Regions from separate parts of the Homo sapiens genome. Here all the other regions are linked to region 1. The links come from fine-mapping of genetic effects on gene expression. A gene starts in region 1. Each other region holds a variant in brackets. All regions are shown on one strand. Distances are between the middles of the regions. Region 1 holds the start of DLX5 (distal-less homeobox 5). Region 2 has its middle 45 kb from the start of DLX5. Region 3 overlaps DLX6-AS1 (DLX6 antisense RNA 1).

The links. PIP is the estimated chance that this variant, and not a neighbour inherited with it, causes the effect.
Region 2: its variant is the best candidate, but not a certain one, in a credible set for the expression of DLX5 in tibial nerve (GTEx, PIP 0.66).
Region 3: its variant is the best candidate, but not a certain one, in a credible set for the expression of DLX5 in skeletal muscle (GTEx, PIP 0.56).

Annotation. Positions count from the first base shown.
Region 1 is chr7:97,018,882-97,029,596 of GRCh38, forward strand. It overlaps DLX5 (distal-less homeobox 5), which reads right to left and starts at 5,950. Exons shown (of 3, transcript NM_005221.6): 1 at 5,388-5,950; 2 at 3,304-3,488; 3 at 1,515-2,184. The coding sequence starts at 5,742. The coding sequence ends at 1,855. RefSeq lists enhancers at 2,062-3,261, 5,456-6,172, 7,099-7,614, 8,693-8,892.
Region 2 is chr7:97,064,399-97,075,113 of GRCh38, forward strand. No RefSeq gene overlaps it. Among named protein-coding and RNA genes, the nearest start is that of DLX5, 45 kb to the left of the region's middle. The variant A/C (reference allele first, on the strand shown) is at 5,835.
Region 3 is chr7:96,990,118-97,000,832 of GRCh38, forward strand. All of the region lies in intron 1 of DLX6-AS1 (DLX6 antisense RNA 1), which reads right to left. Among named protein-coding and RNA genes, the nearest start is that of DLX6, 10 kb to the right of the region's middle. RefSeq lists enhancers at 2,350-2,875, 2,876-3,402, 8,156-9,099. The variant T/A (reference allele first, on the strand shown) is at 4,828.

The sequences.
Region 1 (10,715 bases):
AGGCTGCCGGGCGTAGTTCTGCCTCGGAGCCAGGCTGCGGGATATGTCTAAAGAGCGGTCAAAATACTGATTCCTCCAAGAAGCAAGCTGTTCCACACTGGCGGGCCTGGTAACTCTTCTAGAAAAAAAGTAAAGGAGAAGAGAACGAAAAAAATAAAGGAGGTGGAAGGGAGGTAGGGAGAGAAGAGGAGGAGGAGGCAGGCAGAGAGACAGAGAAAATGAGAGAGAAAGAGAGAGAGAGAGGAGAGAGAGACGAGACAGAGAGAGAAACATGTAGGTAAGGTAAATTCCCCTCAAGGCACATAGCGTGCCTTTTCAGGTCTAGTCTCCCAACCCTGGAAGAGCCTTCTGAGAAATCCTCAGTGACAGGATATAATTTTTTATGCTCTAATCTACCCCCACTTTAAGAAGGCTCTTTTGTCACATTTATTGCTGCTGACTTCCTAGCTGTAAAATATTTCACATGCATCTTGTAATTTCCAACCCAACATTTTCCTTCGTATCCTAAGGAAAGAGAGTCTGGCCCACTGAAGGACGGCCAGACAGAAAGACACCTACAATTCAGGCCTGGGTCTTTAGGTGCAGTGCATAGCTCTGGTCATGCTGTTGGTATCTACATGCAGGAGTGCAAGAAGAAGGAAGGGACACAGGGCACAGCTGCAGCAAGTCCTTCCTCTCTGTCCCAAAGAAGGCTTCCCAAAGGAGAAATCCTAGTAAACAGATTCTATTTTGCATCATTTAGAACCTGTTTGCCACTGTTTTATGTAAAAGCAAAACAGAGGAAGCTCCTTCCTGAAAAAAGGAAGGCGGGAAGGGAAATATTAAGAGTATTATCTCACACAAAATGAAATCAACACGGCGCCACAATGCTTTCATTCCTTCCTTTCCCCAACCCTGAAGTTCCCTCTTCACAATATCTGCAATGTTTTCATCTCTCGAAAAGAGCCGATACATTTATAATCATACTCCAAAGAGTCCAAGGTTCTATCATTTGCCATGCTCCAAACATTTTAGATTTTTAAAAAATGTAATAGGTGTGAGGCTAGATTTCTTTTTCATTTTCTCATCTCTGGAAACTCCCTTTGAAGGGTAATTTGTCTAATTGCTCTGGCACTACACAGAGGCTGATGGGTGGGGGCGCTTCTCCAAGATAATTGCTTTGAGCTTAGAATTCAGAGGGGTTATTGAGGGATTTCTGTTGCCTTCTAACTCACATACAGGGTGAGAGGGATGTATTTTTATTTCAGCATTACTTTCTACCTGAAACAATTATGAGATATGGCAGTACTATAAACATGCCATATATATTATATATATATATGCACACACACACACAAAGTATAGCATTGAACATATATACATATACAGTCTGCATGCATAGAGCCCCGACTTCTGTTTTCTTTTTTGCCTTGTTGGATCTCTGCAGAGCTTGTCCTTCTTTAGTTGCCTTCAATAAAACTTCACTAGCCAGTTATCAGAGGGGCAGAATGAAGTATTTTTCAGAAACATTCCGCTTTTCATGGTCGAAATAATTTTATTTATCCAGAATATACAGTTTAATTCCTCTATCTACACTTATTTACATGGCTAAAATAACATTGAAAAAAGTCTTTTGAAAAGTTGAGGTCATAGATTTCAAGGCACCATTGAAAGTGTCCACAGTTGCGCAAAAAAAGTCCTCTGTAAAAAAAGGGGGGGTCTTTTGAAATGCAATAACTTACATGCAAAAAAAAGCTTTACACATGAATCTTTTTCAGTTTTCCGAACTTCCCCATATGAATTCCTTTCTTTATGATTTTCTAGAACAGCAAAACACAGTAGTCCCAAAAAAGAGAGTAAGAGAGAGCAGCCCATCTAATAGAGTGTCCCGGAGGCCAGCGCCAGCGGGTGCTGTAAGGAGCCCGGCGGCGGCAGGTGGGAATTGATTGAGCTGGCTGCACTTGTGTACCAGGATGCAGAGTTCTCCAGGTAGCTGGACGCTGGGGACTGGTTGGAGGTCGGAGGGTGGGCATGAGGGTGGTGGCTGAGCGAGCGGGACGAGCCCTGGGGCTCCCACACCGCTGGAGACTGCGGCGAGTTACACGCCATTGGGTCGCTGGAGCTGGGACTGTGCTCCGGGGGCATCTCCCCGTTTTTCATGATCTTCTTGATCTTGGATCTTTTGTTCTGAAACCAGATTTTCACCTGAGTTGGGGAACAAAGGCACACGTTACCGGGACACTCAGAGGTCGCCCGCGCCTTCCCCGGGGCGGCGACTGGAGGCATCTTCGGACCTCTGGGCGGCCCAGCCCTGCCTGGCGTCTCCCCGCCGCTTGCGGCCTACCGCCAAGAAGCTATGCCTTAGGCAAACCATGGAGCTCTGGCCCCAGAGGGCGCCCTGGCCGGCTCGGGGCGCCCCGGCCCAGCGAGGCCACGACCCCAAGGCTTGTCTTTTGTTTGGGCTGGGGGTGGGGGACGCCAGCGCGGCGGGTGTGCGCCCGAGTGTCCTCGGCGGCGGCGCGCCTCGTGTAAGCCTGCGCAGGACGCGCGGAACGCGGCGAAGGTCTCCAAAACAATCGCGCGAGCCCGGCGGGGAAGGGGCGTGGGGCGGGCTACGCGCGCCTGTGGTCAGAAAAAGGAGCGAGCTCCCAACCTCCCGTCCTACTCCCTTCACTCCCTCTGCAGCTCAGAGAGGCCAGAATCTGACTGCAGCTCTTGGCGGCGACTCGAACATTCTTTATGCTTCCGTAGGCCCCAGCTGGGTTGGAGGAGTAAAAGGAATGGGACAATCCAGGAAGACTTCTCACGTACAATAGCGCCCCCCACCTCGCGACCCTTCGGTGGCCGTGGCCTGAAGCTCCCGTAGGCTCAGGGCACGACCCTTCAGTTTCTCCGCTCCAGGCGACGTTCTCAGCCTTTTCTTAGCCTGAGACCACCGCGAGAACACCAGGCCTTGCTCACCCCCGAGGAGGCTCTACATTGTTAAGAAAACCAGATAGCTGCTCTGGGCTGCCTAGGCCGCCCTAGAAATAACCCTCCGCTTGCTTTCAACCCGCGAAATTGGCCCCACAGCTCCGGAGGCCCGCTACGGGGTGGGGGCGGGGGGCGCGGTTAGTGGGAGGTATCTCCAGACCGCTGATGAATACCATCCCCACCGTCTCAAGGCCTGACTCACCGAGTTAAAGCATAGGGGCTGATGTCTTTGGGTCTGTTAGTTTCTCACGGGTACTGTCAAAACAGCTCCAGTCCCATCGAGACTGAACCGCGCGACCCAACCAGACGTGCAGCTCAGGCAGGTCTAGTGCATGGCAGCGCCGTATTTACCTGTGTTTGTGTCAATCCCAGCGAGGCGGCCAGCTCGGCGCGTTCCGGCAAGGCGAGGTACTGAGTCTTCTGAAACCTTCTCTGTAATGCGGCCAGCTGAAAGCTGGAATAAATAGTCCTGGGTTTACGAACTTTCTTTGGTTTGCCATTCACCATTCTCACCTCGGGCTCGGTCACTTCTTTCTCTAAATAATCAAAACAGACTCAGTTAAAGCTTGTCACCAGACAATGCCCCTTTTGCGGAAGGGCCTCAAATAGAGTCCTAGAGTTTCTTACCACTCAGTCTTCATTCTTTGCCCATATCACCACCACCTTTGCTTTTCAGGACCGCGATAAATATGCACCTACCCCAAATATGGAAAAGCGGGATAGCCTCTGATTAATTCCTACTCTGTTCATTCAGATAGTTTGTGCAAAGCGCTTCCTACAACACTGCTTTCTCCTTGGCATCTGGGATTCAGCTCTTGCGGTCGTTGCTTCTTCTCCCGGACTTGTTTTTACGCCCACCCTGTGCTCCTCCGCGTTTCCGCCCCTCCCCAGGCTTCAAGAACACCAGCCCCTCCCCAGGCTTCAAGGAGGTGGCCCTGGGCCGTGACCCTACTTCTGTCGGCGTCTGTTCGGGCGCCCGCAGAAGCCAGACTCTTGGGCAGGGAAGACGCTAACCGAGGTCTCCAAAGTTCAAAGACCCACAAGCAAACTGCTCCTTCACTTCAGCAGCAAGCGGTCGGGGCCGCCGCAGACAGAGGGTCGATTATGCAACCCCCATAATCTCGCTGCAGATCTGCGAGGGCACAGATGTGTCTGGTTTCTTTTACAAATAGACTTAATATGTTCTTGGCAAAAAAAAAAAAAAAAAAAAGAAATCTTCCACTTATGCACGGAATACAGAGAGAGTGAAAGAAACGTAGACACCTCAACCCGGGGCTCTCTTTTAAAGTTCAGCAAGAGTCACACACTGAGAAGGAACCGGTGGTGGGGTGTTTTCGTAGGAAAGGGGCGGCAGGTCAGGATGAGATTCTCACTGTCATGAGTATGGGTTTGGGCGGGAGGGGGAGGGATTGCCAAACGCGTGTTGTACAAACCTGCCCTGGGGCTACAACTCCCCTTCCTCAAAACTACCACCCCTCTGGAACTGACGGAGAACCTCTCCAGGGTGTGTGTGTGTGTGTGTGTGTGTGTGTGTGTGTGTGTCAAGTTCCAGGGAGAAGTGTGGAGGATGAGGGCTGTGGTCTCAATTCTGCCAGAGTAGGGGATGCTAATATTAGCAGGATTATTAATGTGCTGGTGGGAAGAGATCAAACCTTACCAATAAAACCTCTCCGCCGAGCCTCATGCCTTTCTCTTACCGCCCAAGCTCACTAACCCTCTTAAACTCTCTAAGTAAGTTTCAAAGCGGACGAAAAAGGAGGACGGAAAGACAAATTGTGGGCGCCTATGGAGACAGAAAAAAAAATCTATCCTACAACGTGACCCCTCAGCAACCCTCCTCCACCTTTAAATGGCTTTTTGTTTTTGGAAATGCCTGGATAAACCGCAAAACTCTCGGCGCGCTCTTCTCTGGCTGGCTACAACTCCTTAACCCCCCCACCCCCACCCAGCGTGCTCAGGGCACCCGCACCGTGCTAGCTTGTGGCGGCTCTCAAACTAATCCTGACTGAGTTTTTGAGGCAGCCTTCTATTCCCACTCGCACCAACCCAGCACGCTTACCAAAATTCCCAAGTAACCTTCTCTTTGTTACGCAAACGCCAGGAGCTGCTTGATTCTTTCTTCTCTCCACCCCTATCCCCTTTCCAGCCTAGCCGGCTTCCTGGCCGGGCAAGCTGGGAATTCAGCGACTGAAGGGCCTTGGAAGGTGCCGGAGGGGAGAGACGCTAGTTCGAACCTCCACAGGGCTCTCCTACTAAAAATCCCTAAAATGCTGGCCCGAGAAACTCTCTTTGTTGGAGGGTCTGAGTCCTACTCCCTTCTGCCGCGTGCGCCCCCACTGCCGTGAACCGCTGTGACCCCCAATCTACCACCCCATCTCGCGCCCCCAGCGTCCTAGTCGCCCTGTATCTGCCCAGCCTTCCCCCTGTCCATGTACCTGGCTGGTTGGTGGCGCTTGGGACGCGGTTGTAGGCGCCGCCGTACTGGTGGTAGGAGCTAGCGTAGCTATAGTCGGCATAAGCTTTGGCTGGGTAGCTCCCGGCGGAGCCGTTCACGCCGTGATACTGATACTGGTAGGGGTTGAGAGCTTTGCCATAGGAAGCCGAGGTAGGAGAGCAGTAGCCGTGCGGGGCTCCCCCCGTAGGGCTGTAGTAGTCAGAATCGGTAGCTGAAGACTCGGGCAAAGTTGGCGATTCCTGAGACGGATGGTGCATAGCTGCGGACGTCTGGAACGGAGCTTGGAAGTCGCCGGATCGGATGCTGGGGACCCTTCTGTCAAACACTCCTGTCATCGCTCACGGGCGGCGGCAGCGGCTGTCCTTGCTGTTGTGGCGGCGGCAGCTGCCCTAGTTGGCTGTGGGGCTGCTCTGGTCTAAGCAGACATGGCTGTGGGAGCGAGGGAGGAGGAGGAAGAGGAGGAGGAGAGAAGGAGGAGGCGGCGGCCGCGGCGAGGAGGAGACTGGGAGTCGTGAAGTCTCTGTCTCCGGCCGGCTGACTGCTGGCTGAGGCGCAGCACAGCCTTGGTTAAATCCTTAATTGCGCGCTTACGCACAGCGGGGTGGATCTGGTTCTATTGGCCAGGGCCTCGGGAGCAACAGTAACACCCTAACTCGTCCAACTAGTTTTAGCACAACAAAGCATTGCTTAAAAAGGGGGTGGGGGGTACTGAGGGGGTGTGTGTGTTTGTGTGTGTGCGCGCCCGCGCGCTTGTGTGTGTTTTTGCTTGTTGTGGAGTGGGGAGGGGTCTTAGTCTATCTGTTTTTAGTAAATTCCAAAGACATCGCAGAAGCCACAGCACAAGGCTCTGTGATGTCTGGGGACAATGTGTTCCAATCAGAAGCCTCAAAAGTGCACATGTTTTGGGAATGAGGTGGGCGACCATCTTTCCTTGCTTCCCACTACCCCGCCCCCGTGGGCTGCACCAAAGGCGAGTGTAGAATTAAACACTGATACTGAAATAGGGAGTCAAGGTGCAGGGAGTGGGGAGCGGGGGGATGTAGGATGGAGGCAAGAAGGAAGGGAAACAGCATTTTTTTTTTTTTTAGTGGAGTGTTGGGAAGCAAGTTGTAACTTACATGTTTTGAAAATTTGCTCTTTGGGGAAAGAGGCAACTTCCTTTGCAGGAGATGAGTATCTCCCGGACGCGGGCTGGACAGGAATGCCCAAGAAGGCACAATGTCCATTAAGCCGGTGAATGGCAGGGAGAGTTCCTGCAGCCCAAAGTCCTTATAATGACTTTTAAAAATTACTGTCTTAAACACATATAACTTAAGGAAGCCCAAATCCTCGTTGCTGGCTTGCAAAAAGAGCCAAACAGCTCCACTTCTGTTTAATATTTTCATCTATTTTCAAGACATTGGAATAAAGGCTCTTTAACTATGTTCAGTGGCCAAAGACTCCCGCAAAGGTGAATGGATCCATGTATAACCTGCCATACCTCCAGGAAAGAATGGGAAAGTCTCGGAAGTGGGGAAGGAGACAAGGATCAAAGCCTTTGCAAAGTCAGATGATGCTCATTGATTTCCCCCTCCTGGCTCCATGAATGTGGCCCAGTCTCTCCATTTCCCAGACCCGGGTTTCTGTACCCTCTCCCCTTTATTTCCTGCTGCAAAGACATCCTACTTAGCTCGTATGCAAGGGAAGAAAGGATTCAAGAATCATTCAGTTGATACACGAGATCTAAACTTTGCTCTTCAGGAGGTGCTATCCTTGTTCTAGTCGTGATTCAGCTGGGAGTTTAGAAATTCAGCATAAAAGTCTCTCCCAATCCCCATTGTTACTCCCCTCAAATAGGCAACTCCGCGGACTAGATCCTGATTTGGGGCCTTCCTACATCTTCCTTTACGGGGTCCAAGACCGGCAATCTGGGAGTTCCACAGGCTATCTAGGGTTATCTGGCCTCCCCTCCGTTTTCCCTCCTACCGAAGAAGAAAGCGTCTGTGTTAGTTGTGTCTAGTATTAGTTTAGCCTTACTTGGAGTGTGGAGCCACTCGGCCTAAAACAGGCCGACGGGTAGAGGTAGGGTGTCTGGAACTCAGAGCAAGATACAGCCCCGCTCAGGAACTCCAAAGCAGAGCTGCCGTGCGTGCACCAACTCCCTGCCTTTGCGGTCTGGACTGCACCAGAAAAACACAGCTATTGTCGCACTTCCTTTCGGGGGAAACTTCAGCACCGGGAGACTGGCGCCCAGCAGCATTCTCCTTCTCCCACTGGCCCGAGTCACGAGCTTTGGGCCTGGGCTGCCGCGGGCTTCTCTGAGATAGACTTCGGGGTAAACAGAGCTGCAGCTGCCAGCCAGCCCTGACTTGACGCTGTCGATTACCGACAGGCTGTTAACCGTCTAGATGTAGGCTGTGAGGAGCTAAAGAACAGGAGGGAAACATGGGTCTGCGGTCCTGGGCTCTGCTCTGGAGAAGTTATCGGCGCCCATCGAGTCACCTGATACACACTGCCATTTAATTACAGAAATCGCTTCCTCAGATCAATGCCAAGGACAGTTCAAAGCACCTCCCGGCAAAGACAAGTGGGCAGGGAGCCAGGCCTCCCTTCCTCTGGTCCCCTATCTTCGACACTTTTGGTTAAATAGAGATTTGAGTTACCACATGGTTATACTGAACAGGGTGTTCCTAGCAATGCCCTTACACCTTGCTGAGATGGCAGATTCTAACCAGGATGGGATTGGAAGCTGCAGAATTGGGGCAAAATTTAGAAGTTCGGGATCCGATTGAAAATAATGTTACAATGTCAAATTAGTTCTAGACCTTGCTAAATTTCACCCCCCCAAAACCCCGCAGTCAAAATGGACATTCTTTCCCACATTTCATAAAAGACAAAAAGGAGTGGGCCGGGAGGGAAGAATTTAACTTCTTTGTTTCGGTTCCTAAAGCGTTAGAACGTTGGCCCTCACGCAGACTTGAGCCATTCTGCTGCTGGGTGAGACCAAATCTGGATGTGTCTCTACAGGTCCAGAGCCTCAACTTTCTTGATTTTGTTCCTCTTTTCAAGGTTGACCCCACTCCCCACTCCACCCCTTCCTTAAAGGCAGCCGGGAGGGAGAGGAAGCACTAAGTTAAAAGCAGCGGAGAGTCTGTTCACAGTACAGTTTTATTTAATTTCACAATATAGGCATTGTAGCTCTGTGCACTGCCGGCTGCTCTGCGGGCCTGTCTGCGGCTTCGGACCCACGCTCAGGACATACACCGGCCAGTATCCCGGCTCTCGGAGCAGCAAACTTTTGCTGGTGTTGTGAGGGAGTTCTCACACTAGGGCCTCCAGCTTTGTCCTAAGGCCAGCGGGCTGGACGCTATTGCCTCTCAAAATCCACCGACAAATCCAGCCGTGGAGAAACAGCCCCACGGCATCAAACTCTTCCAGCAGTGCGCTTCCCGCTGAGACACGTAGGAAGAATGTAAGTAATTTCATCTTTTAGTAGCTGAAATCTGCAAAGGGAGGGAAGGGGAAGTAGCGGGAGGGAAGCCCTAAGATAAGTGCAAGTCTTTACCACGAGCGCCACCCAGTGTCCTCGAGCAACATTGCGCAAATGGCAAACCCCAAGCTCAGTCACTGGCCAGACACCAACTGGTCCTTAGTGTTAGAGTTCACTTCCAGGTGGCTTTCTTTCTCTGTACTTCCAATACATCTTTCTCTCAATTCCCATGCCCTTTCCTTTCCTTCTTGTACATTCATACTTTTCCTTCCTCCTCCCACCGGCTCACCTTTTTCTGGGTCACCTTTTTCTTGGTGCCCCCTGTCCTATCCCTCAATTCTTAGGTGTAAGGCGCTCCTTCAGTGTCCCCACCTGGGGTGACTGGAAGGCATCAAGGATGACTCTCCTTTCCTAGCCTTTTATTATTATTATTATTATTATTATTATCATTATTATTATTATTATTATTTGGACAGAGTCTTGCTTTGTTGCTCAGGCTGGAGTGCAGTGGCATGATCTTGGCTCACTGCAACCTCTGCCTCCTGGGTTCAAGCGATTCTCTTGCCTCAGCCTCCTGAGTAGCTGGGATTACAGGCATCTGCCACCACGCCCGGCTAATTTTTGTACTTTTAGTAGAGGCAGGGTTTCGCCATGTTGGTCAGGCTGGTCTCGAACTCCTGACCTCAAGGAATCCACACAACTTGGCCTCCCAGAGGGCTAGCATTACAGATGTGAGCCACCGCCCCCGGCCGCCTTTCCTAGACATTTGTGAAGAAGCAGGCCCTCCTTTAGTTAGATGAGGTGCTTGGGAAGCTTTCGGTCATTCACTACTATGGGCTGAAAAGAGTGCCACTGAGTGTGCAGGGAGAGAGCCGCAGAAGGGGGTGGGGTAGCAGAAAATCTTAATAACAGCATTTACTCAACTTTCTCCATGTAGCCTATCTGGAGATCTGTTTACTCATAGAAGTGCCAACAGTAGAACACCTTTTCTTTTGGGCTTGAAACTCAGAAAATTCAGTGCAGTTGAAAATATTTAATTTACGAACTTAAGATATTTTTAATATGGAAACTTTCATTTATATAAAACATTGTACACATCAATTGGATGTGCATAATTCAGGTAAATAAAGGACCCCTTAATATGATGCTAGCATTGTATAGGCATACTTGGTATAAAAAGCACTTTGACTTTATCAGTAGAATACTCATTCTTTAAAAGTCCAGTTTTGGGGGTGAGGTTTATTTTTCTTTTTATTTGCACTGCTTTATCCATTATCTTTTTTTATCTGTCCAGTGAAAAATGCTCTGAGCAATTCACTCTTATCATGATCCATTTAGAGTACTTTTCATCCCAGAAATCTCAAACACAACAAAACTGGTTAAGTCAAACATTTTGTGGAGGTAGACCTGAGTAATCATTTTATTACAATGGAGCTGCAGTTATCTTTGAGCTGGGGCACTAAGGCCGTTTAATAACTTAAGGTAACAGCTCTGAAATATTCAATTTGATATTTGTATAGAAAAAGCACATTTCTTGGAACTAGGGTGGGATGAAAAGATAGGAGTTATGATTGCAAAAGTAGCAAAGGCTTTCAAAAATAGCACAAGTTGTTGGTCACTGGTTTTGGCAATGCAACTGAATGGCCTTTGTCTCCCAATAGAGGGCTAGGCACACTGACTTGGATCTAGCATTCAGAGGTGGTTCATCTGAGTTAGGAAAACTATTTAATTCCCCATGTAGGTTCAAACTTCTTCCCATGTGTTTATGAGGCTGAACTAACTAGGCCCAAGCTAAAATGTTTAGGAGCCCATTTAAATCAACAGTGAGCTTATCTAGGG
Region 2 (10,715 bases), 46 kb after region 1:
CTGGAGTTCTGCTGTCACAGTAAACCTGTGCAACTAAATCAAACACTCCTGGTCAGATATTAAATGATTAAAACATTTCCAAAATCACTTGAAAAAGAACAAATCCATCACATCATTATAGCTAAGTTTACTGCTTAAGAAGCAATACGGCCGGGCGCTGTGGCTCACTCCTGTAATCTCAGCACTTTGGAGGCCGAGGCGGGCGGATCACGAGGTCAGGAGATGGAGACCATCCTGGCTAACACAGTGAAACCCCGTCTCTACTAAAAATACAAAAAATTAGCCGGGCGTGGTGATGGGCGCCTGTAGTCCCAGCTACTGGGGAGGCTGAGGCAGAAGAATGGCGTGAACCTGGGAGGCGGAGCTTGCAGTGAGCCGAGATCGCGCCACTGCACTCCAGCCTGGGCGACAGAGCAAGACTCTGTCTCAAAAAGGAAAAAAAAAAAAGAAGCAATAGCACAGCCCTGCCTACAGTACCTCAGAAAACCCAGTGCTAACGAATTGTTACGAACCCAGTGTAACGAATTGTATTAAGAAGCAAAAATGCAAAAACAGCAGCCTGATTATTTTTAAAATTATAACATACCCTCAGGTAAGTAGCTTGAATTTGCCTCCCGGGCAGAGATTGGATGTGGAGGAGAGCTGAGTTGGGAAGCATTTTGGCTGCAAGTATTAGAGATTTTAAATTTTTCTCCTGAACTGAAAAAGTTCCATTGTAAGCCCACTGAATACTGTGCATCTAACCTTGAGGCAACCTAGCAACAGTGACATCTAGTGGTCACACTAATTGCATCTCCTCACCTCTCTTCCTCCCCAAACCCTTCCCAAAAGAGTGATATCAGAGTTAAGCATTTAAAGTTGAATCTCTCTGCTAATATCTACCCTTAAATGGTCTTTCTGGGTCTCTAAGTTGTTTCAAATACAAGTATTGATAGATCAGGGCTAAAATGTTTAACTGAGTCTTTCTTTGATTTGTATGAAAGTCACCTTGCAATATAGCAAAAGGAGAACAATCGGGCCCAAATATTAAAAAAAAAAAAAAAAAAAAAAAAAGACAAAACAAGTCTGACAGCCCGAAGATCTTCGTCATGATTAGAACGCTCAGAGTTGCTTTGTCCTGCTCCTATACTCCATCACACAGAAGGCTGCCACCAGACTAATCTCCCCAAATAGTAACTGTCATCAATGCTTCAGTTGTCCCCAGCTGCCCACCACATTGAATTCATACGTACCTGCCTGGCTTTCAAAGCACTCATAAGAATCACCCACTGTACTTATTTCTAACAATTCCTCATTTCTCTACTCCAGCCAAGTTAGTTTCTTTTCTGTTCTCTGGATCCATCATAGTCCTTTCTCTTTTCTTGCCTTTTTTCCTCCTTTTCTCGCTCCTTTCTTCTCTGATATCTATTTTTCAAAGCTCATTTTAAGTTCATCCCTTCTACAAAGCCATATCTTCATTATTGCTCAAGCCTATGCCGACCTCTCATTTCTCTGAATTTCCATTTCATTTACACTTAGTACCACTCAGTGAAGCATTAAATGGCTTCACTGGTGTTTCAGGCTTCTTGGTCTTGTCTCATCTGCAAGTTTTAAAACTCTGCCAAAGCAAGAGTTGATATCTTATATGTCTTTTTGTATTTTCCATAGTCGTTTATTTTGTTTGTTTGTTTTGTTGCTGTTGTTGTTTAAGACGGAGTTTCGCTATTTTACCCAGGCTGGAGTGCAATGGCACCATTTCTCCTTGCTGCAACCTCCACTCCCCAGACTCAAACGATTCTCCTGCCTCAGCCTCCCGAGTAGCTGGGATTATAGGCATCTCCACTACCACACCTGGCTAATTTTTACATTTTTAGTAGAGATGGGGTTTCGCCATGTTGGCCAGCTGGTCTTGAACTCCTGACCTCAGGTAATCCATCCACCTCGGCCTCCCGAAGTGCTAGGATTACAGGCATGAGCCACCATGCCTGGCCCATAGTTTTTAAATGATGTAACATATCTAAAACAAATCCTCATCTAAACCATTCCTTAATTTCTCCTCAAGTTTCAGTGGAACAACTCTATCTCTTCTTGTCCAACTAGTTGGTGGACTCTAGTTTTTAGTAACTGTTAGTATAATGTTAAGCTGAGATACGAAACAATAAATAAGCCTTATACCAACTTGAGTTGTTGTAAAAATGTATTCCCAGAACATTTTCAAGGGAACACCAACATAGAATGAATTATTTTACAAACATTAGATACTATACAACAGAGCAAAATGACAAAATAGTGTGGAAATCTCTCTTTGTATTTGAAAAGCTCTATTTCCCTTCCTTTAGGAAGATCATCTACTATCTACTCCAAAAATGTTATCCTATATCTGTAACTCAAGTTCTGTTCACTATTGTTTGATGGCTCCCTGCTTTTCAAATCGATGGTACACTATCATGGATTATCTAAGGAACACCGAGTGCCAAAATAAATTCCTAGTTTCTATTATGTTTTAAATAAAGGGAACTTACATATCAGAATTTGGATAAATAATATTTAAGATTCTATTCCATATCCACTAAGCATTGGCCGGGTTAATACCACATTGGTTAAGATTCAACTGAAGGATTGAATTTTCTCCTGGTCACCACGTTTTTAAAGAGACAGACAAATTGGAGAGAGTTCAGAGGGGAAGAACAAAAATGATCAAAGGTTTGGAAAATCAGCTCTGTGAGGAAAGGTTAAGAGAATAAGGCCTGTTCTGCCTAGAGAAGAGAGAACTGAAGGGCCATAATAACTCTCCAAAATACATAAAAGAATGTTTCCAGGAGGAAAGGGACCAATTATCCTCATTAGTCAACAAGGATAGGACTAGGGATAATGGGACTTAAGTTGCAGCAAAAGGAAGAAAAAAAAAGATTAAATATTATGAAAACCTTCATTTCAAGGCTAGGCCTAATGCTTTTTCTGAGTTAGGGATAAAGAAATCGTCCCTCTGTGATGATAGGGAAAATATCAGAAAATTATCAGAGAAAACCTTGGCAACTCAAGAATTATAAAGGAAAAAAAGATGAAATTTTGATGTTATGCTTAAAATGTGCATAACATTCTCCACTCAAACCCAATGAGGTAGTTATTTTCACCAAAAACCATAAAAATACATACAGAACACATAAAAACAAAGATGCACAGACAAACAAATACAAATGAAGAAAGACAATTACCTATTCCCATACTCTCTTGGCTCATCTTTCACAGGATTAATGCATAAAATAGGTTTTATCTTAAAATAATAAAACATTAGTGCCCTTTGTTCCTTGATTTAATATAGTCATCATATTAAAAAGTGGTGGAACTGATAGAGTTTTAAATACAGATAAATCAAGCATGCATAAAATAATGATGGAGTGGAAGAAAATATAATACATCTGAAAAAAATCAGCATTCATTTGCATATGATTTGTTTTTGTTGCATGTCATTTACCTTGGTATATTCTTAAGGCCCTACTTCTCTGAGAAGGTGGGAATTATCCAGTTGAATGCATTATCTTCATTCCTTTATATCTCAGCACAACTCTGATTGTCAGTCTCCATTTCTCCATTGCTTTCTTCTCTCAATGCATATTTATTGATAACCTGCTGTTTGACCAGGAACTAGGCCAGTGTTTTCACTCACCTTTATTCAATCAATCATTCAATCATTTAGCCAATGAATATTTATTGAATGTCTTCCATATCCTGGGCACCTTGATAAACACTCTGGCTAAGGCTGAGGACAAGACATACTTTGTCCCTGCCCTCATGGAGTATACATTTTGACATAAACAAATACATATGATGTATGAGGAGTGTTGAGGAGGGGAAGTAAAGGGTGCTATGAGAGCACATAGCGGGAGAACCTAAGTTAGTCTAGGGAACACTGCCTTACAAATGAAAGTTAGCAGGTAAATAATGGGGTGTGGGTAGAGGAAGGGGCAAGTATTCCAGGTAAACTGGTAGAGGAATAGCATGTGAAAAATTTCAGAAAGAAGAGAGACAGCAATGGTGTTTATGAATTTATATATTTTATGAAATTACCTTAACCAGCCTTTTCTATAAAGTGAGATTGGGCAGTACAGTAACTATGTCTGTACTTGGAAACATTGAAATTATCTATAATATTTTTCATTTTTAAGATGTCAGTGATTATATGATGAACTGCCATTTTAATCATAGTTTTTTGGGTTTGAAAAACACCTCTACGTTAAAATGGGAAAATAATGTGTCTTGAATATATTTGCACTTGGTTTTACAAAATGGGATCTTACCATATACATTGTTCTGAAACTTTATTTTTTGGAAAATGATCATATTTTCATTATTTGGGGATAAATTTGATTTTCAGACACAAAAATAGTCATTTGGCACTTGGTCTTTTGATGGTCAAAAACAAAAAAACAATACTAGCTAATTCTAACAGAGGTTTTACACAATATTTTTTGCACTATTCACATAAATGTATAGCATCTTGAGATGTGTAGTTTAAATGCTATTCTTTTGGATTTATTCATTTTGCTACTGCTTTTCAAGGTCTATATAGTTAAATTTTGATATTACAAATAATCTGGAAAATAAAACATTTACTTGAAAGTCTCTAGTGGGGCTAGAGGAATTTTGTTTCTCAGAAGATCATCATGAAAGGAGGGTTGATTGGGTAACAGCTGAAATGGACATAGCCACTGCTTTATCAACTCCAAGTCTTCCTTGCTCCTCTCCATCAGAGAGTCCTATGGTGAACTGGCCTGAGGGATTCAGCTCTCAGTTACAGGAATAAGAAGAAACCTCAGAACACTGAGACCATGAGGGAATGGCTCCTCAGTAGTAGACATTCTTTTTTATTTAATCAGGTTAATATTTTTATTTTTAGTTTTTACTTTTTTTATGTTTCCATAAGTTATTGGGGTACAGGTGGTATTTGGTTACGTAAGTAAGTTCTTTAGTGGTTATTTGTGAGATTTTGGTGCACCCACCACCCGAGCAGTATACACTGCACCATATTTGTAGTCTTTTATCCCTTGCCCCCCTCTGACTCTTCTCCTCAAGTCCCTAAAGTCCATTGTATCATTCTTATGCCTTTGTGTCCTCATAGCTTAGCTCCCACATATCAGTGAGAAGATACAATGTTTGGTTTTCCATTCTCGAGTTACTTCACTTAGAGTAATAGTCTCCAATCTCCTCCATGTCACTGCAAATGCTGTTAATTCATTCCTTTTTATGGTTGAGTAGTATTCCATCATATATACCACAGTTTTTTTATCCATTTGTTGATTGATGGGCATTTGGGTTGGTTCCATAATTTTGCAATTGTCAATTGTGCACTATAAACATGCATGTGCAAGTTTCTTTTTTGTATAATGACTTCTTTTCCTCTGGGTAGATACCCAGTAGTGGGATTGCTGGATCAAACAGTAGTTCTACTTTTAGTTCCTTAAGGAATCTCCACACTGTTTTCCATAATGGTTGTACTAGTTTACATTCCCACCAGCAGTGTAGAAGTGTCCGCTGTTCACCTCATCCATGCCAACATCTATTATTTTTTTATTTTTTTTATTATGACCACTCTTGCAGGAGTAAGGTGATATCGCATTGTGGTTTTGATTTCCATTTCCCTGATCATAAGTGATGTTGAGCAGTTTTCATACATTTGTTGGCCTTTTCTGTATATTCTTTTGAGAATTGTCTATTCATGTACTTAGCCCACTTTTTGATGGGATTTTTTTTTCTTACTGATTTGTTTGAGTTATTTGTAGATTCTGGATATTAGTCCTTTGTCAGATGTATAGATTGTGAAGATTTTCTCCCACTCTGTGGGTTGTCTCTTTACT[A/C]TGCTGACTGTTCTTTTCCAGTGCAAAAGCTCTTTAGTTTAATTAGCTCCCAGCTATTTATCTTTGTTTTTATTGCATTTGCTTTTGGGTTCTTGGTTATTAAATCCTTGCCTAAGCCAATGTCTAGAAGGGTTTTTTCCAATGTTATCTTCTAGAAATTTTATAGTTTCAGGTCTTAGGTTTAAGTCCTTAATCCATCTTGAGTTTATTTTTGTATAAGGTGAGAGATGAGGATCCAGTTTCATTTTCCTACATGTGGCTAGCCAATTATCCCAGCATCATTTGTTGAAAAGGATGTCCTTTCCCCACTTTATGTTTTTGTATGTTTTGTCAAAGATCAATTGGCTATAAGTATTTGGGATTATTTCTGGGCTCTCTATTCTGTTCCATTCGTCTATGTGCCTATTTTTATACAAATATCATGCTGATTTGGTGACTATGGCTTTATAGTATAGTTTGAAATCAGGTAGTGTGATGCCTCCAGATTTGTTCTTTTTGCTTTGTCTTGCTTTGGCTATGTGGGCTCTTTTTTGGTACCATATGCATTTTAGAATTGTTTTTTGTAATTCTGTGAAGAATGATGATAGTATTTTGAGGGGGATTACACTGAATTTGTAGATTGCTTTTGGCAGTATGGTCATTTTCACAATATTGATTCTACCTATTCATGAGCATGAGATGTGTTTCCATTTGTTTGTATCATCTATGATTTCTTTCAGCAGTGTTTTGTAGTTTTCCTTGTAGAGCTCTTCCAACTCCTTGGTTAGGTATATTCCTGAGTTTTGTTTTGTTTTTTTCAGCTATTGTAAAAGGGGTTGAGTTCTTGATTTGATTCTCTGCTTGGTCACTGTTGGTGTATAGAAGAGCTACTGATTTGTGTACATTAATCTCGTATCTGGAAACTTGGCTGAATTATTTTATCAGTTCTAGGAGCTTTCTGGAGGAGCCTTTAGGGTTTTCGGGGTAAACAATCATAGCATCAGCAGATAGTGACAATTTGACTTTCTCTTTATCGATTTGGATGCCCTTTATTTCTTTCTGTTGTCTGATTGCTCTGGCTAGGACTTCCAGTACTATGTTGAAGAGAAGTGGTGACAGTGGGCATCTTTGTCTTGTTCCAGTTCTCAGAGGGAATGCTTTCAACTTTTCCCCATTCAGTATAATGTATGCTTTTTCTGCATCTATTGAGATGATCATGTGATTTTTGTTTTTAATTCTGTACCATATTTATTGACTTGTGTATGTTAAACCATCCCTGCATCCCTGGTATGAAACCCACTTGATCACTGTGCATTGTCTTTTTGATATGTTGTTGGATTCAGTTAGCTAGTATTTTGTTAAGGATTTTAGCATCTATGTTCATCAAGGATATTGGTCTGTAGTTTTCTTTTTTGGTTATGCCCTTTTCTGGTTTTGGTATTAGGGTGATGCTGGCTTCATAGAATTAATTCTGGAGGATTCCTTCCTTCTCTATCTTGTGGAATAGTGTCAAAAGGATTGGTACCAATTCTTCTTTGAATATCTGGTGGAATTCTGCTGTGAATCTGTCTGGTCCTGGACTTTTTTTGTTGTTGTTGGTAATTTTTTAATTACCATTTCAATGTTGCTGCTTGTTATTGGTCTGTTCAGGGTATCTAATTCCTGATTTAAGCTAGGAGGTTTGTATTTTTCCAGGAATTTATCCATCTCTTCTAGGTTTTCTATTTATGTGCCTAAAGGTGCTCATAGTAGCCTTGAATGATCTTCTGTATTTCGATGGCATCAGTTGCAATATCTCCTGTTTCTTTTCTTAGTGAGGTTATTTGCATTTTCTCTCTTCTTGGTTAATCTTGCTAATGGTCTACGAATTTTATTTATCTTTTCAAAGAACCAGGTTTTTGTTTCATTTATCTTTTGTATTGCTTTTTGTTTCAATTTCATTTAGTTCTGCTCTGATCTTGGTTATTTCCTTTCTTCTGCTGGGTTTGTGTTTGGTTTGTTCTTGCTTCACTAGTTTCTTGAAGTGTGACCTTATAGTGTCAGTTTGTGCTCTTTCAGTCTTTTTGCTGTAGGCGTTTAGGGCTATGAACTTTCCTCTTAGCACTGCTTTTGCTATATCCCAGAGGTTTTGGTAGGTTTTGTCATTATTGTTGTTCAGTTCAAATAATTTTTTAATTTCCATCTTGAGGCTGGGCATGGTGGCTCATGCCTGTAATCCCAGCACCTTGGGAGGCTGAGGCAGGCAGATCATGAGGTCAGGAGATCAAGACCATCCTGGCTAACATGGTGAAACCCCGTCTCTACTAAAAAATACAAAAAATTAGCTGGGCGTGGTGGCGGGTGCCTGTAGTCCCAGCTACTGGGGAGGCTGAGGCAGGAGAATGGCATGAACCCAGGAGGCAGAGCTTGCAGTGAGCTGAGATAGCGCCACTGCACTCCAGCCTGGACGACAGAGCGAGACTCCATCTCAAAAAGAAAAAAAAAATTCCATCTTGATTTCATTTTTGACACAATGCTCCTTCAGGAGTAGTTTATTTAATTTCCATGTATTTGCATTGTTTTGAAGGTTCCTTTTGGAGTTAATTTTCAGTTTCATTCCACTGTGGTCTGAGAGAATGCTTGATGTAATTTCAGTTTTCTTAAATTTATTGAGACTTGCTTAATGGCCTATCATGTGGTCTATCTTGGAGAAAGTTCTATGCGCTACTGAATAGAATGTGTATTCTGAAGTTGTTGAATGAAATGTTCTGTATATATCTCTTAAGTCCATTTGTTCCAAGGTGTAGTTTAAATCCATTGTTTCTTTGTTGACTTTCTCTCTTGATGACCTCTCTAGTGCTGTCAGTGAATTACTGAAGTCTCCCACTATTATTATGTTGCTGTCTATCTCACTTCTTAGATCTATTAGTAATTGTTTTATAAATTTAGAAGCTTCAGTGTTAGGTGCATATATGTTTAGGATTGTGATGTTTTCCTGTTGGACAGGAATATTACTATTATATAAGGTCCCTCTTTGTCTCTTTTAACTGCTGTTGCTTTAAAGTTTGTCTTGTCGGATATAAGAATAGCTACCCCTGCTCAGTTTTGGTATCTATTTGCATAAAATGCCTTTTTCCACCCCTTTACTTTAAGTTTATGCAAGTCCTTTTGTGTTAGGTGAGTCTCCAGCAGATAGTTGGTTGGTGAGTTCTTATCCATTCTGTGGTTCTTTATCTTTTAAGTGGAGAGTTTAAGCCATTTACATTCAACATTAGTATTGAAATGTGAGGTACCATTGCATTCATCATGCTCTTTGCTGCCGGTGTTTTTTGTTTTTGTGTGTGTGTTTTAACCTGTATTTTCTGTTTTTTTAACCTGTATTTTTGTTTTATAGGTCCTGTGTGATTTATGCTTTAAAGAGGTTCTGTTTTGATGTGTTTCCAGGATTTGTTTAAAGATTTAGAGCTCCTTTTAGCAGTTCTTGTAGTGGTGGCTTGGTAATGGCGAATTCTCTCAGCATTTGCTTGTCTGAGAAAGACTATATCTTTCCTTCATATATGATGCTTAGTTTTGCTGGATACAAAATTCTTGACTGATAATTATTTTGTTTGAGGAGGCTGAAGATAGGGCCCCAATCCCTTCTAGCTTATAGGGTTTCTGCTGAGAAATCTGCTGTTAATCTGATAGGTTTTCCTTTATAGGTTAGCTGGTGCTTCTGTCTCAAAGCTCTTAAGATTCTTTCCTTCACCTTAACTTTGGACAACCTGATGACAATGTGCCCAGGCAATGATCTTTTTGTGATGAATTTCCCAGGTGTTCTTTGTGCATCTTGTATTTGGATGTCTAGGTCTCCAGCAAGGCTGGGGAAATTTTCCTTGATTATTCCCCTAAATGTGTCTTCCAAGCTTTTAGAATTATCTTTTTCCTCAGGAATACCAATTATTCTTAGGTTTGTTTGTTTAATATAATTCCAGACTTCTTGGAGGCTTTGTTCATATTTTCTTATTCTTTTTTCTTTGTCTTTGTTGGATTGGGTTAATTCAAAGACCTTGTCTTCTAGCTCTGAATCTTTCTTCTACTTTTTCAATTCTATTGCTGAGACTTTCCAGAGCATTTCACATTTCTAAAAGTGTGTCCAAAGTTTCCTAAATTTTTGACAGTTTTTTCTTTAAGCTACCTAGTTTCTTGAATATTTCTCCCTTCACTTCTTGTGTCATTGAGAGACAGAACTAGCTGGATTTCCTAGGCTAACTAAGAATCCCTAAGCCTAGCTGGGAAGGTGACCGCTTTTACCTTTAAACCTGGGGCTTGCAACTTAGCTCACACCCGACCAATCAGGTAGGAAAGAGAGCTCACTAAAACACTAATTAGGCTAAAACAGGAGATAAAGAAATAGCCAATCATTTATCACCTGAGAACACAGTGGGAGGGACAGTGATCAGGATATAAACCCAGGCATTCGAGCTGGCAACGGCTACCCTCTTTGGGTCCCCTCCCTTTGTATGGGAGCTCTGTTTTCATTCTATTTCACTCTATTAAATCTTGCAACTGCATTCTTCTGGTCCGTGTTTTTTACGACTCGAGCTGAGCTTTTGCTTGCCGTCCACCACTGCTGTTTGCCGCCGTCACAGACCTGCTGCTGACTTCCATCCCTCCGGATCCGACAGGGTGTCTGCTGTGCTTCTGATCCAGCGAGGCGCCCACTGCCACTCCAGATCAGGCTAAAAGCTTGCCATTGTTCCTGGATGGCTAAGTGCCCAGGTTCATCCTAATGGAGCTGAACACTAGTCACTGGGTTCCACGGTTCTCTTCCATGACCCACGGCTTCTAATAGAGCTATAACACTCACTGCATGGCCCAAGATTCCATTCCTTGGAATCCATGAGGCCAAGAACCCCAGGTGAGAGAACATGAGGCTTGCCA
Region 3 (10,715 bases), 29 kb before region 1:
AATCTGTAACTAGGAATTGTGGCTGTCTGGAAGAAGTCGCCTGAACATTCTATTGGAGAAGTTCGGAACATCAATAACAACTCACCCTCTGCCTTTCTCTTTCTAATTTTATACTATTATTGTCTGTGCAGCCCTGGTTTGCCCAGCGGTGTCCTATCACGGGGAAACAGTCATGTAGCTAAAATCATAGTAGTGAGGGACCCATGATTCGTTTAAAAAATGTGAAGTTTTAAAATGTTGGATTTTTTTGAAGCTTGAACTACTATCTGAAATCTCGAATACAATTAGTCGTTGCGTCTTAAAGGCCTTTATATCATTGAAAATTTCCTAACAGCCTGTATAACTTTGAAACAAAACGTTAGTGTTATAATTCAATAAAAGTTATTTAATTATTAAAACACAGTGAGGGCCTCGTAAGTTTTATAGCTTCTGTCAAGACATTGCTAATGTGTGTATGTGCGTGTGTACATATATATGTACACACATATATATGTACACACACACACACACACACATATATATACATATACATATATATGTCAAGGAAGAAGCAAACCCAGATTTTAGGGTTGGATCTTTATTTAATATGTAATATCTATGAGGTATCCAAGTCCAGAAATCAACTCACCAGTTCTGTACAGGATTCTGTATGGAGATCAAATCTGGGATTTCTAAAGTTAAGAATTCAGGCCTTGGAAATGGATTAGATTAGATCTACCTGAGCTTATTTTAAAAAGAAAGAGAGGGAGGGAGAGAGAGAGAGACAGGGAGAGAAAAGAGAGACAGACAGACAGAATATACATATACATATATATAGAGAGAGAGAGAGAGAGAGAAATAGAGTATGTGTGTTATAGGCTGTTTTTTTTAAGATCTCATTTTTAAATGTCCTGTTTTGGATGTGATCCCTTGAGTTCAATACATGATCTTTTTCAACTTGCAAAGAATCTAAGTTTTGAGGAAGGGAAGCACAGGCTTCAGCCTCTATTTCATATTTTTAAAGTCACAGCACACCAACTCTTATATTTCCTAACTTAGAAACAAAACTTAAAAGGTAAATTTGGAAAATTAACTTAAAAGAGACACATAATAGAGGATAACTTATCTATATCTATCTGTATATCTATATATCTTTACAGAAATAAATGTTTTTAAATTAGTAAAGATCTAAGGGTAATTAAATTATATAGTATCCTGAAATACATAACATGGGAGGAGGGCCTTAAAAATTATTCCATCTAGCAATACTTGTATATACACAACTAGTAAGAAGTCCATAACTATCAATAGCCAGCAGTGCTTGCAAATTATATTGAATTGAAACGCTACTGAAAGAGTTTATCTTTCATTGTAGTTTGGAATTGTGTGAAGGTATGTTATGTACATGATCTATGTATATATAATTCTTATACTTTATATATATTTAGACATGCACTTCTTTTTAAATGTTTATGTGGTTAGTCACTTTAAGAGCATCAAAATAAATTGTGCGTTGGCTTACACTATCTCCCAGATATTCACAAACACTGATGAACAAAAATCTTTATATAGGAAATGAAGAGCTACCCATTTAAAGAAAAGAATGGAAAGGGGAACTCGATTTATTCTCATTTGTTTATCGCCAGATTTCCCCCCACCCCCCTGCAAATTCATTTGAATAGCTTTCAAGCCGGAAAATGGAAATGTGGCTCCTGCCCTCTATTTCAGCGGCAGCAGCAGCGTCCTGGCAACAGCGCAATTTTCTATCATCAAGGATAAATGGCATCGAACAGAACATTCTGATAAAAAAAAAAAAAAAGAAAGAAAAAGAAAGAAAGAAAGAAAAAAAGCTTCAGCCCAAGGAGCCCATGATTGCTGGCCTTCCTGTCTGTCATCCCTTTACAAAATCCTCTCCGCAAACCTGAGCGGCATGCTGTCAGAGCTAATAACGTCTTCTGAAGGGGCTGGGGGGCGGGGGGAGCACAGTCTTCCCTGCACAATGTTCCCATTTATTAAATCGAGTGCTTATTTTAAAATTGCAAATATCTTTGTTTGGTTCACTGAAAATTAAAACCAAGATGTAGGAAGCTACATGATGCGACAATTATTCGTGTCATATCAGAGAATCAAACCCCTATCTCTCCCTTCTCCTGGTTAAGGCTGGATGAGGGGGAAGGGGGAGTTTGGGGGTATTCGGGACAGGAGGTTTCTGGTGGAAAAATACAAATCGGTTCGCCCTGCAGGTAAGCTGAGAGTAACTGAAAGCCGGAGCAGCGATGCCTGTTTCTACCAGGAAGAAAGAGCTAACTGTGATTCCAGGAGCGCGTGTGGGCGCGGTCCTCGCCGCGACGCCGCGCGCGGGTCAGGCTCAACTGCGAACCTTGCCACCGAGCTTTCCCGCGGGAGGCTTCGAATATAACCTTGCCTATTTCTCGCCTACTGAGATTTCTTTCCAGAAAAGGACATTCTCCTGCTCCGAGGAGATGGATCCCTGAGGTCCCCATGCCCGCACAGGGTGTCCTGGAGGAGTTTAGAGGACACTCCTGGGGCCCTTCCCTGTGTAGTACGCTTATTCCCGAGGTGGGGGCTGAGAATCGAAGAGCAGCGCCCCCCACACTGGGATTGGGGGTGGTCGAGGGGCTACAGATGCCCGCATTGGGCTTCTTAGCGGCCTAGGCTGATGCCTGGAGGTAGGGGGGATTGGGTTTGGCTGGCGACTAGCTTTAATGCCCATCGAGTTCCTGGGACACCCAAGTTCAGCACTTCTGCATGAAACCGAAACGGCCAGGGAGGGGCGGAGTGGGCCGAGGCTGAGGGAGCGGCGGTGTTGACGCCCTCTTCCCACCCAGGATCGATCGATCGGTAGGGAATTTTTTATCTTTGGGAAGGAGAGGTGAGGAAGCGGACCTAAAACGAGGGGAAAATTCGAATTTAATATCCTGTATAGGAGGTCAAAAGAAAAAAAATGATGGCGAGGAATGCAGAGGGCCCTAAATGGACCCTAAGATGAAGTACGGGTGGTGGCTGGAGAGCTGGGACTGGAAGGTGGGGCTGGGGGAGACGGGTAAGCAGCTTGCTTTGGTGAGGAGCTCCCACGCTGAGAACGGTGGGAGGAGGGAATGATGGGGAAACCTTTGTTTAATGAGGAAACCTAATTATTGCGCATCTGGAAGTCTTAGTCCCTACTACCAGACGAAGGCGGGTACCTGAGGGATGCAGTGCGCATGCCCGAGCCGTCGGATTTGCATGATAAGGCTCGCACGTGAGCCAACTCCGGCGCAGCCCAGGCTGTGCCGCGGCCGGCCGCCAATGGAATCTTGCTCCTACTGCGCCTCCAGGTCACATTGACATCTCGGTTTCCCCACAATAGGCCTTTAAAACCCACTTTAAAAATAAAAAAGTGTTTTAGTATTGATTCTCGCCTAGACACGGAAGATGTCTGTAGGAAACTGACACGGTTTAGAACTACAACTACATTACTACAAGCAAGGGTTAAAGTATTCAGAATTTAAGAAAAAGTTAGAAGGCCGGAGAGAGGGGGCTGTTTAAAGAGCTCTGGCGGGAAGTCAAGGAATCCTGGGACTGCTGCCTTCGGAGCCCTGAGGCTAGGGCCAAAGCTGAATCTCTCTGAGCCTTACCTGTCACATGAAAATCACACCTACTTCATTAACCAGAGGAGCCTCAAAAGCAGAAACATTACCTGTGCAGGCCTGGCTTGAGAAAGCAACCCAAACTGAGAAAGCAACCCAAACCCACCCTTTCTCCACCTCATCCCCAGCCACACCTGGTGGCCAGGGAGATGGAAACTAGAACACCTGTATTCCATCTCTCTCCCTTTCCCAGACACCAAAGTGGTCTGTGGGGTGAGGGCCATGTGTTAGCTCCCTCCTCTGTGAAATGCTGCTAATTTTAGAAGGGCAGAAAAGAGAAAGGTAGAGAAGTGGCATGAATCACCACCATGGCTAGGCCTCTTGTCTCCACCCATGCTCTGAGGCTGGAAAGATGAGATTCTCTGGGGCTATAGAAAGGGTGGGCCAGCTGGGAACTATTACCCATCCTGCCCCTTCTGCACACCAAGGCTGCTCCCTGCCCTTCCTGAAGCACCATTCTGACTGTTACCAACCAACCACCTTGTATTCTTCTCACTATATATTCCTGCCAGAATTGCTGCCTACACATGGGCCTCCAGCGTCCCTAAGAGTGCTCATACCCTGTGACAAGAAAACCATTTGTTCTTACTGAAATAAAACATGTGGGGATTGTCATTTGCAGTTCCTCTCCCCTTTTGTGTAATTCACAAGTCTCTGATGTAGGATTAGGCTTCAAATGCATTTGGTCAAGTACATACATTTTAGTACTCAGCTTAAACAATGTCATGCTTAAAAGCACCTCAGCAATGCCTCTGTTTGTCTCTAGGTCTTTGTCACCCTCCAGGCCTATGATTATAACATGGCTTTTTGTTTCTTTTTTGAGAATGTGAACCAGAGCCCCACCCCAGCCCTCCAAAATGCAAGACACTAAAAAGTGACCTCAAGGTCTTACCTGCTCATCTAAAATCAATATTATTTGACCAATGAGTATTATGTCACATATCGTGTAAGCATATAGCTTCCAATAGCCACGTCTATTTTCAAATAAGGAGATACCTACCGAACCTTCAGAAATGCCAGCTGGTAGTTTCTGTATAGAACAACAAACTTTCTCACAATAGTGTTTTCGGATTGTCTTTGAAAAAGGTAAGCTTTCTCTAAACTGGCCCAATAAAATCAAAAGAGTGTTGGCTTCAATTATATAAGGCTGCAAAATGAGATAGCCATGTTGTCTAAAATACTTCTTGAACACTTTGGA[T/A]TTCAGAACACTTTTTCTTATAATAGACTTCTCTTTGTGCTTTAAGGAATAGGATAATGGTGTGTTTGAAAGGAAATATAGACCATAAAAAAGTCCATTAGCCAATCAATAATTGTCACAATCCTCAATTAAAGCAAAATTATCTTTCCTTGTCCTATAAGTGGCTGGAATAAACAAAGAAATTTTTCTTCTTGACCATTTTAGGTAAAATTGAACGAACATAAGTCTCAAATTCATGTCCTGGTCTCTTCCTAAGGCAGGTTTCAGATCATCCATAAGGCTAACTTTGATGACAACTCTCTGTCATCTCTGAAGAAGGAAAGATCAGCAGGCTGGGGGGTCTAGAGAGGGACACTGCAGTGTGGGCTCTGGACAGTGACCAGGAACCCATCATTGGCCACAACTTCAGGCTCTGGAGCTGCTGTTCACAGGCATCTTCAACTCCCACCTAGACTGCCCTGCAAAGTCTCTTTGTCTCACATTTGTGCTGACTTCCCATTGGCTCCTTCTCATTCCCCACTGTCACGGCTGGCCCTCAGCACCCTATGCCAGCAAGGCTAGTTGATTAAAAAACTATATACATATATTCACACACTGAGCTGGGAGCATTTCCTTCCCATGTAGCAAAGCCCCTCTGATTTAAGACTGGTCAAATTAATAGGAAACAGCAAAGGAGGTTAAAGAGGGAAATTATTGAGGACAATGACTGCAGACATGCAGTCTACAGTGCAGAGTCTGCCTTTTCCTGAGGATTCAGAGCTGTGCCCACAAATCAGATGGGCGGAACAATCCCCCATCCCACCCCCCATGTTTGGGGTCATTAGAATTAGAGGTAGCTTCAGGGGATTCCCTTTCCTCTAGCATGGGTCAGCCAGGAGGCAAGAAGGAGGCTAGGAGGCTGGGGACCCTCATCAGTCCCACTAAGCCTCCAGAAGGTATCTTTTCCATCTGCCCCTACTTGCTCCCCCAGTGGGTCCCGCGTGCCTAGCCCCCACACCCCCGCCTTGCGGGAGTTATTTTAATGACACTAAATGTGCTCCAGGAAGCTTTCCCCTCTCTCCCTCTCTCTCCCTCTCCCCCTCCCTCCCTCCCTCTCTCTCTCTCTCTCTCTCTCTCTGTCTCTCTTCCTCTCCTACTCTCTCCCTCTCTCTCCTGGGATCTCTCTCTCTCTCTCTCTCTGTCTCTCTTCCTCTCCTACTCTCTCCCTCTCTCTCCTGGGAGCTAACCCAAGCCTGTGCACCGGAGGGCAGCTGACAGCTGAGCGTGGCGGGGGCGGGGTTGGGGGTGGGGAGGTGGCGGCTGTTCCAAGCGCAGGATTCTGGAGTCCACCGGCGCTTGGGCAGGTAGCAAGCAGAGCTAGCTGCACGTTGCCCCGGCCGGCGTTTTCAAACAACTTGAATTACAGGCTACATCTTGAATATGAATTAGCCTTCCGCACTGGTGTGAATTCGCTTTGAAACTCAACTTGTCAAGTATGGTTTTAATTAAACATCTTCCGGCCTCGAAAGATTACATGTTTTGTAAAATATATTCTAGCATGAAATTTACTTCCACGATCTGAAATTAGTTTTTTGGTAAATGTTTTCATAAAAAAGAAATACGAGGTGTGTGTGTGTGTGTGTGTGTGTGTGTGTGTGTCAGAGAGAGAGAAGAGAAGGGGGGTATGAAGTAGTTTATATTCACTGCCTTCCTTTAAAACGTCCTACCAGCTGGACTTGGAGCCTGACAGGTCCCGGGTCCCAGGTCCCAGGCAGCCCCGGCCGGGGCAGGGCCAAGACCGCGTGCCCAGGACAAGTAAGTAACTCAAACCCGACCCGGCAAGCGTGGCCCAAGCTGCTTTTGCAGTTGGGGACAATTGAGCGGACACACAAGTTAATCCCGCACTGATTTGTTTCGGATCCATCTGCAGGACGCCTGATGCCTCCCCCTTGGCTGCTGCAGCGGACACCTGCCTCCCTCCCCATCCCAGACTGCTCTGCTTGTCCCATGAAAGCAGAGAAAAGAAACCATAGGGTGCGGAACGGACCTCAGTAGTATTCAAGACAACACTTCACCGTGAAATGTAAAGTTCTCCTTTAAGAATTCCTGCCTAATATTGAGAACAACAGCCATGTCAATTGATAGCCGTTCTAACAGACAGTCCGAACTGCTCCAAACCACTCTAAAAGCTTGCCTTGATGGAGAAGGGGCCTCTGGGGCCTCTCTATCACCTGCCTGGGGGCCTCTATTTCCCAAGTAGCCCTCAAAGAAAAAAGACCCTATGCTCCCGCGTAGGGGTAGGAAAAGTGCCTGCTATGATGGGTCTTTCTATTCAATACAGAATTAAGAGTTGGGTCCCTGTGGAATTCTCTTCCTAACTACTCTCTGAGGAACCAGCCAATTCTGACGGGATTTGCTGGATTCGAGCAAAACTTGGCGCACATGGGGTGGGGTGTGATGGGGAGCAGGAGGGAGGGGGGCGCATCTCCTTTCTTCCAGATAATTGGGACCCAGCAAAGAAGGAGGGGTGGAGCGGTAGGGAGAGTTATTTGCGGTCATCAACTGAAATAGGCAAAACCAATAACGCACCTCGCTTTTCGCCCTGTTTACTCCATCCCCATTCAGTGATTGGCAAAGCAGGCCCTGAAGGCAAAGGCAATAATTGCTCCGCGCTCTCCTTACTAGGGAAATGTGTAGGCATTTGAAGTGTACTAAAAATAAACGAAGGAGCGAGAAAATGAAAAGGGGACAGAGTGACAATTTGCGGCAATTAAAGCGTCTGCGCGCTGTTGCCGGAGGAACAGGGACCCACAGCGGTTTTTGTTTTCCCAGGCTTGATGATGTGACTAACTCGTTAGAGAATTTGCGTCCTAGGTTGTGTGTGTGTGTGTACTTGCGTGTGTGTGTGTACACGCGCGTGAGCATTCAGCAACCCAGGAGCCCACAGCAATGGCCGGATCCGTGGGGGAGGAGAGAGCCTAGAACCCTAAAAACTCCTTTGGCCTCCAGAAAGACCCCGGTGCAGCTCTCTACCCTAACCCCTAAGCCCCTCTCAAGTGAGAGCCTCTCAGTTAGTACTCAGTTGCCACGTCTCGCAGGAACTTTGGAGCAAGTTTTCAGCTCCCAGGTGTCCAACCTTTAAAAGGAAAAGCATAATAATACTAACCTTTCTTTCACGACCACGCGAAACGCAAAGGATGTGGAGTGGGGAGGGGAGGAAAAAAAAAGGGGCGGCCAGCCAAATCAAAGCTTGGGAGACATTTTGACAGTGCGCTTGAAATAATGCTCTTAATTTTTGGAAGGTTTTCAAGAAGGGGGTGGGGGGCACGTGGGAGAACCACAACTTTCTCCTGTCTGTCACTCAAGCGGCCAGAGAGGGCTCCAACCTCCAGCTCCCGCGGCAACACACAGTGGGAAATTGCTTCAAGATACAGTGGGGCTCTATTCTTTCTCTACCCCTGCCCCGCCTTTCCCGAGCAGTGAACTTCACAGAGAGGGTGGTAAGGGAGGGTTATCCTGGGTGTCAAAAATCTGTGCATAGCCTGAGATCAGAAGAGTTAACCCCAGGCCCTAGACCCAGCCCAGCGGCCAAACTGGCACCCCGTGCTGATCAGCCCCCGCATCCCCATATCTGCATCCCCATATCTACCTCCCCAGTCGGGGGTGGTGAGGTTTGGGGGAGGGGGGCGACACTACCATATGCATCCACCACCTAAGTCCAGCCCAGGCTGGCTTCAATGAAAGCTGGCAAATCCGGCGAATCTCGCAGAAATTTTCTTCGAACTTAATTCAATTTTAAAGTGGATTTTTACTATTAAAAACGCTGCCGAGCAACACATTGAATTAATCTGACTGTACGGTTTTAATTACAGTGAGGGTTTCTCTACAAATCTGTACAAGACAGTGGCTGGTTCTTGGAGGATCTCTGCCTCCTGAATTCCATTATCGGGCCCCTGGTTCCCTGCAGACGGCAGCTCGTGGGAGCCAGCTGCGGTGCGAGCGTTCAGTCGCCCTCTGCTTCTGCCGGGCCTCCTGGCTCCTGTCCCTCCTCCCTTCCTTCATCCCAGCCCCATGGAGAGCCCAGGATTCCTGCCTGTCATTTGAGACTGCTGAACTGATATCCTGAAACGCTACCCTTGCTTTTTAAACTCTTGGGCCCCAGACTTTTGAGCCCCCTGAGCATCGTTCTTAAAGTGGCTCGTTTTGTCTGGGAGGGTGACCTCTTGTGTAGTGTTTTTTGAAGGGTTCTCCTGCTTCGACTTAGCAGCTGTTAGAGTGGGCAGCGTGATGCCCAGTCTGTCTGAGGGGAAAGCAGGTTAGGAAATGGGGAGGAGAAAGGGGTAGAAGACTAGTGAAGAGCTTGGTTTGGGGGAGTCTAGGCCCCCCACCTCCAGCCCTACCCCCACCCCCATCTCCACCTCCTGGCCCTAGAGGAAATATACATGGCGTAGATCTGCAGGTAACAGGGCTGCTTTTATCAGCTCTCATTTTGTTCATTTGTTGTGCAATTAGCATTGTAGGGCAATGGTACCTAGCAAACAGGACCAGGTAGAAAACTTAAACACAAAAGGAAGCCGACTCATACTCAAACTCTTTTGTCCACTCTCTTATATTCTTTTTCTAACTCTCTTTCTATGTCCCCTGCTTTTGTCCCATTCTCTCCTTCCCTCCGCACAAAGTATGTGCGAGTAAAGACAGTGAATCCAAATATGAACCAGCAAAATGGACGCAACCTCTCAATGTGTATTTAAAGAATTGGAGGCTTTGAGCTCTGTCGGGGAAGGGCCCCACTCAGCAGAGTGCAAGGGATGAGGAGCATTTTGGCTCTCTGCACAAAATTTGTAAAACCTGCCAGGAAAAAAAAAAACCAGTAATTATTCCATTCCCAGGGTAGTGGGAAGGGGGCTCTCTTTCTCCTAGATGCGTGTGTGTGTGTGTGCGCGCGCGCGCGCGCGCTTTAAAGGAGTCTCTTTTCTGAACAAGAAAAAAGAGAGAAAGAAAGAGAGAGAGAATGAATGGGCACAGTTGGGAGAATGGAATGTGAAAAAACAAAAACAACCTTAGCTTCTAAGGGCATTCAAATTTGTTGCCCTCTAAAAAAGTTTTACTAAAAAGCTAATAAATTACATTTCCATTTATTGGGATATTCCCAAATAAAGGAGATAAGGAGTATTTATGAACAGGTATGAGTATAAAAGTCACCAGTTCATATATATCACAAGAGTAGACAGATACAGAACAAACTCACCCTCTCTCTTTCTCATGAAAAACGGTTTTCATTTATTTTTCTGTTATAACAAGAGGACCAACATGATAGCAAGGGGATGTTTTCATCCCAGGTTTTCCTGAAGAGTTGTCCCAAGCAGGGCTGTCCTTTAATGTTAGGCATTTTCTGTGACCTTGCTATTGTTACTGCTGATGAAGCGATGAAGGAATTAAACAGAAGATGCTTGGAGGCATTTAGGAAGACAGCTATATTAACTCCTTATTATGCCTAAAAATAGTCTACTGTTTCCTGTTGATACTTGTTCCCTACCACTATAAGGCTGTATTTATCCTCCAATGGTCAGGGGTCCCTGCTTTCCAAAGACTGGCTTGCTTAAAGCTGACTTCTAACACCCCCTCCCTTCTCCCTTTGCTCTGATATATTTCCCATCAGGGCAAATATGGAGAGCTCAACCTTAGCATAGCCTACAGATTGAAAAGACAGACATCAGCATTTAACTTGTTTTATTCTAAGTGTTTAAACATTGTTGAGTCCTTTTTTTCCTGGGCTTAGAGAAAGAGGAGTGTTTTTGTATTAGGAGTGGGGTCCTATGCTTGTTAAAAGAGAAAAAAGAGAGAGGATTTGAGGGGAGAGGGCAGACAAGCAGACCGACCTCTGTATACAATCCTAAAATTAGGGAAGG